Homo sapiens: one gene and its partner. The protein of the gene in region 2 interacts with the protein of the main gene of each other region in a biochemical or structural test. Each region holds a gene or a part of one and is shown on either strand. Other genes may lie near its edges.

Evidence for each region. Proteins that work in one complex are often made in the same cells at the same time.
Region 1: the proteins of CNST (region 2) and GJA1 form a complex in vitro, tested with the Homo sapiens proteins (one study listed by BioGRID).

Annotation. Positions count from the first base shown.
Region 1 is NC_000006.12:121,447,937-121,450,227, reverse strand, and holds the end of GJA1 (gap junction alpha-1 protein), read right to left. Parts: coding exon 2,232-2,291; 3' UTR 501-2,231; downstream 1-500. UniProt on the Homo sapiens protein: Gap junction protein that acts as a regulator of bladder capacity. A gap junction consists of a cluster of closely packed pairs of transmembrane channels, the connexons, through which materials of low MW diffuse from one cell to a neighboring cell.
Region 2 is NC_000001.11:246,590,293-246,594,147, forward strand, and holds part of CNST (consortin), read left to right. Parts: intron 1-1,219; coding exon of another isoform or gene 1,220-1,270; coding exon 1,271-1,649; intron 1,650-3,855. UniProt on the Homo sapiens protein: Required for targeting of connexins to the plasma membrane.

The sequences.
Region 1 (2,291 bases), on a different chromosome or scaffold from region 2:
TTCAACACTTTATCTTCCTTTTGGTTCAATAAATATCCAAAAATGTTTACAATTTATGTTGCACTGAACAGAGCTAATGATAAATATTGTCCCTGAAAACATGACTGTTATTTGCTGAAGTTCTGATAACCAATAGAAATGTGTTTAAATAATCTCAAATAGATGCCGTCAATGAGTTTTAAATATAGGCCAGGTGCGGTGGCTCACCCCTGTAATCCCAACACTTTGGGAGGCTGAGGTGGGCGGATCACGAGGTCAGGAGTTCCAGACCAGCCTGGCCAACATGGTGAAACCCCATCTCTACTAAAAATACAAAAATTAGCCAGGTGCGGTGGCGGTGCCTGTAATCCCAGCTATTCGGGAGGGTGAGGCAGGAGAATTGCTTGAACCCGGGAGGCAAGGGTTGCAGTGAGACGAGATCGCGCCACTGCACTCCAGCCTGGGTGACAGAGCAAGACTCCATCTCGGCAGGGGAAACAAATCACACGGAATATAGAAGCTATGTTTATACTAAATTAAAACTTTATTGAATAAAGAACACTCTCCAGAACACATGATCTGATGGACTAGGTCTACATTACATGCAATGAAGCTGAACATGACCGTAGTTTAACATGGAATGTCAAACAAATTAGTAATTTTCATTGTACAAAACTGTTTATGTAGCTGACATGCATGCAAGAAGAAAAGTGTCATACTCAGCATTTTCACCAATCTTCTGTGATGAGTTTTAAAAAAGGCATTTGGAGAAACTGGTAGATGTCTTCAACATATAGTTCAAATAAATTAGTTGTATGTGTACTACTGAATCCTCTTTCAACCTCTCTTGCATTCCAAATAAAATCTTAGTGCAAACATCAAAGTTGCTGGTCACTCCAAAAGACTGCTAAACTCATAATAGAATACAAGTTCTGAATTACTGTGTATTAAGTAGGAAAACCCAAGAATACCAGTTACTGCAAAATTCATTTAGGCACATTTAATAGTCCACTCTAAGCATTTTTTCTAAGTCTCTCACATTAATGACTAAAGCCTGTTTACAGTACTAAAATTCTATCATTCAAGCATCAATGATTACATTTCAGAAAAAGGAAATTCATTTCAGTAATAGCATTACTGCTATATCCTAAAAAAAGGAGAGAAAATAAAGAATCATAATTAACAAAACCAGTATCCATAATAGGATACACAGGGAAAAACATTTTAGGAGAAAAAAAAAGTGTGCTTTACTTGCCACAGCAGGAATTATATAATGTAAACACCATATTGGCCCACACCACAAAAATCCATGAGAAAGGTTCAAATTTGAACACCATATGTGCATTATTTTCAAATCTGTGTTTGTGAGTTTATACTGTATCTGCTTGTACCAATACATGACAAACAAAACAAACTCTTCGACACACATATAAGTGATTGTTAAATATTAAGCATGGCTTGATTCCCTGACTTTAGCTCAAAAAAAAAATGTTAAGTGACATCCCAACTGTCTTAAAAATGTTTACAGAAACCATTAAATGAATGTGAGTAGTAGCTGAGGAATGATGAAAAAGTGATGGTAATGATATTGTGCAAGTGGATGGAAAAAGAATATACGTATTTGCAAATGCATGGAAAATCTTATTCTGTGGGCCTTGTCTGAATTTTAAACTGATACCAAGAATAAAAAAATATAGTAGCACAAGTCCATTGACACCTGGAGGGTCAGGCCTAGAAAGCTTACCTTCAAAGTGCAAATTTTAACAATGGAATGTTTTAGCAGGGACTTAAGGACAATCCTCTGTCTTTTTCTTGTTGAAAAGACCTAAGATGTTCAGGAAGTATTTATTCCTGGCCAGAATTATTTCAGTTTCTTGGTAAAACAAAAATATTTAGCCACAATTACCACCCGCTCATTCACATACACAGAACCATTCTTAGGGGTGTTTGCGGGGAGAAAAAGCCCTTATCTATGTATCACCTAATGGAACTCTTATTTATAATCTAAGTTCTTTGAATCCACTACTTTAAATACCAACATGCACCTCTCTTATCCCCTCCCTCTCCACCCATCTACCCCATACACCCCCAGTGAACCTAGGTATTCTAATGTCTTTGTGTTTTCTAAGCCTCATGAATAAGGCTGTTGAGTACCACCTCCACCGGATCAAAATTAACACCTGGTGCACTTTCTACAGCACCTTTTTTCTTCTCCACAATTGAGTGGAATCTTGATGCTTTCAAGCCTGTATCTAGATCTCCAGGTCATCAGGCCGAGGTCTGCTGCTGGCACGACTGCTGGCTCTGCTTGA
Region 2 (3,855 bases):
TCATACGATGTCTGGAATTTACAGATAACACAAGTAGTTTAGGTCAGGGGTTAATATTATTATTATTTTTTTAACCACCAGGGCCAGGTGGTGGTGCCAGGGTCGTCTGGCTATTTATCTTACTTCTGTTTCTTTCCAACTTTTTGCTTTCTCCCTTTTCGCCTGTCTTATAAACTAGGCAAAAGTGGGAGAGAGGAGGGCAGCAGGAGAAGTGGTGGTCTCCTTCCTTAATGGTATAGGGTGAATATTTTATCTTGTACTTTTCATGGTTTTAGAGACTGTACTTTACATGTTTCTAAAGATTAAGCATTTCTACTCATTAAGTTGAAGAATCTTTAGAAGTCCTCTCACTGAGGTTTTTTTCCAGAATTACTGGATTATTTCTTTCATACCTATCATTTTTCTTAAAATGTAATACACTTGTAGATAATAAGAGGAAATAAAAGATGACTGATAAAGGGCTTGCAGTCTGTTTTGTAAATTTTAAAAATATTAGTGGTATCCTTCAAGCAGATTTAGCATTTCTTCCAATTCTACACTAAGAGTAGCCTAGAGTTAACCATGGCCTTTTTTTTTTTTTTTTTAAGTGTTCAAAAGGATTTTGATGACAACTCTAAGGTACCTTCCAGGGCTTATTTTTAGGAAATAAAAAATAAAACGATAGTATAAATATATGCTACCTAAACTTCCCCTCACATACTTTTTTCTAGGTTATTTTTTTTTAAAATCTTCAAACATTTTCATTTCCAAATATTGCTGCTGTTTAGCCAGAGAAGAACTTATACAACTAGCTTTCAGTTGTCTGCTGAGTGTCCAGGGATTAACATAAGAGACTAATTTCAGCACATAACCTATTTAACTAGTCATTTCATTCAGGCAGTGGTCCCAACCTGATGCACATTAGACTTACCTAGAGAACTTGAAAAATAGTGGTGCCTAGGTTCCATCCTCAGAGATTCTGATGTAATGGTCTAGAATAGAATTTGGGCAGCCTCTCAGGTGATCATCATGAGGAGACAGGCTTGACACCTGTAGTATTCATGTGAGAACTAGCTGAGTTTGGGGTTGGGTTGCATATGGTGAAAGGGAATGAACTTAAGTCATTTCCTTCTCTTCCCTATTTACAATGAAACAACCTAAGAGAAGGGGAAAATCAAAGATCACTGAGAATCTGCAAAGGTTAGAAAATGAAGTAGCTTTTTTCTTTTTGTCATTGTAGACATGGAAGGTCTTTAATGTAACTTTAAATGGTTCACCAAAGGATGCTCTAATGGATGACAGCGATACTCCTACATATTATCTGCAAATAGAACCACAAGATGGATGTCATCCTGGTGACAGCGTGGAAAGGAGTGTGACCTGTCTGCCTTCTGCATCAGATGAAAATGAAAATCAGCTTGACGGGGACGGGCATGAGCATCTGACCAGCAGTGACAGTGCGATGGGAAAGCCCCAAGTGTCTGAGCAGGACAGTCTCAATAATAATGAAAGCTGCACATTGAGCTGCGAGGTGGCTGCAGGTGAGAACTTGCAAAACACCCTTTGTGAAGCCTCCAGAGATGAACAGGCCTTCTTGGGAAAGGACAAAAAAATTCCTGGAAAAAGAAGTCCAAGAAGCAAAAAAGGGACTGCTAAGAAGATACCACCAGGTATTGTTTAAAATAGTATTTATCCTCTTCTTTAATTAATTAAAAATGAACCTCCTTCCCTCCCATACTGTGTTTACTGTCCTGCACCTTGCTTCTTTGCTTACGATATTCTGGAGCTAGTTCCGCCGCAGCACAAGTAGATCCAACTGCATGATATTCCAGTGTGATACGTCTCCACACTGTTCCACCGTATGGGTGTAACACAATTTATTTAATCACTTCCTTATGGCCCTTCCCAGTCTTTTACTATCATAAACAGTGCTGAGGCCGGGTACGGTGGCTCACGCCTGTAATTAGCACTTTGGGAGGCCGAGGTGGGCGGATTACCTGAGGTCGGGAGTTCAAGACCAGCCTGGCCAACATGGTGAAACGCCATCTCTACTAAAAATACAAAAAATGAGCTGGGTGCAGTGGCGTGTACCTGTAATCCCAGCTACTCTGGAGGCTGAGGCAGGAGAATCGCTTGAACCTGGGAGGCGGAGGTTGCAGTAAGCCAAGATCACGCCACTGTACTCTAGCCTGGCTACAGAGTGAGACTTCGTCTCAAAAAAAAAGAAAAGAAAAAGTGCTGAAATTGACATCCTTTGTACATGTTTTCACATTAGGTACTTTAAATATATGCAGCCTCCTCTCCCTCCTTTATAAATTAGACCATTTTCTACCAATATCAACCTTAAAAATTGCCTTCTGTCATTCCTGTGGCTTTGATCCCTAACCTGTGAGTTTAGATGCTACTGTGACCTCTTTATAGATCTTTCCATCTCACTCAGCAGGTAAATAAAATACAGGAACATATATTAATGTACAATTTAATATGTAGTGTTGAATAAGACATCTGGTTCTAATTATCTGTATCACTTTGGTTAAAAAGTAATTCAGAGTATTTCTTGTTTGGTATGCAGTTTGGCAGTTGAAGTTTAGAGCTATGGAATTTTTGGCCTGAATCACAGGGCCCCCTTGGGAAAAGGCAGCCTCTGGTTATTTTTTTTATCAGAAACATATGGGACTAGAAAGTTTTGGTATGCCCTAGACTGGATTCCTTAGTGTAGTACCACTTTTTACCCAAGCCAACAGATTTTACATCAGACTCTAGTGAACTAAGTAGAATGCCTCTTCATCTTCTGTTCTCTTCTTTGGTTAATTAGAAATATATCTGTCTATATCGTATTTTTTATTTGTATTTTTAAAATTTGAAGTAAAATACAAAACTTTTCAGTTTCTACAAAATCCATATTTATTCAATAAAGTAATTTGAAAACTTTTTAATATAATTCATAATCTGGCTTTCTGGTTAATGTAACTCATAATTTGGCTTTTCACGTCCCTGTATCTTTTTCTTAGTAGACTCAAAATAATTTTTAACCAGGGATATGAAAGCTTTTTTTTTTTTTCTTTTTTTTGAGGCGAGTCTCACTCTGTCACCCAGTATGGAGTGCAGTGGTGCAATCTCAGCTCACTGCAACCTCCGCCTCCTGGATTCAAGCAATTCTCCTTCCTCAGATGATTCTCCTGCCTCAGCCTCCTGAGTAGCTGGGATCACAGGTGTGCACCACCATGCCCAGCTAATTTTTTTTGTATTTTTAATAGAGACAAGGTTTCACCATGTTGGCCAGGCTGGTCTCAAACTCCTGACCTCGTGATCCGCCCACCTCTGCCTCCCAAAGTGCTGGGATTAAAGGCGTGAGCCACCGTGCCCAGCAAAAGCATTTCTTAAAAGATCTAATAAGCAGAGGATATTTACAGTACTATGTATATATAAATCAGTTTATTCTATAACTATCATTCAAGGGCAAATTCACCAGGCCTCTCAATCTGATTTTGTGATTTTATTTTATTTTCAAGACAGGGTTTCACTCTGTCACCCAGGCTGAAGTGCAGTGGCGTGACCATGGCTCTCTGCAGCCTTGATCTCCCAGGCACAAGCGATTCTCCCACCTCAGCCTCTGGAGTAGCTCGGACAACAGGCATGTGCTACCATGCCTGACTAATTTTTCTTTTCTTTTTATTTTTGTAGATAAAGAATCTCGCACTGTTGCCCAGGCTGATCTTGAATTTCTGGCCTCAAGCGATCCTCCTGCCTAGGCCTCCCAAAGTGTTGGGATTACAGGCATCTTGTGATGTCTTTAAGAACTGATACTTAGTTGCATACCTATGAGTCAGTCATAGCTTTAAGATTGTGAGTCCTTTTACTCCTCCCTTCCATGGT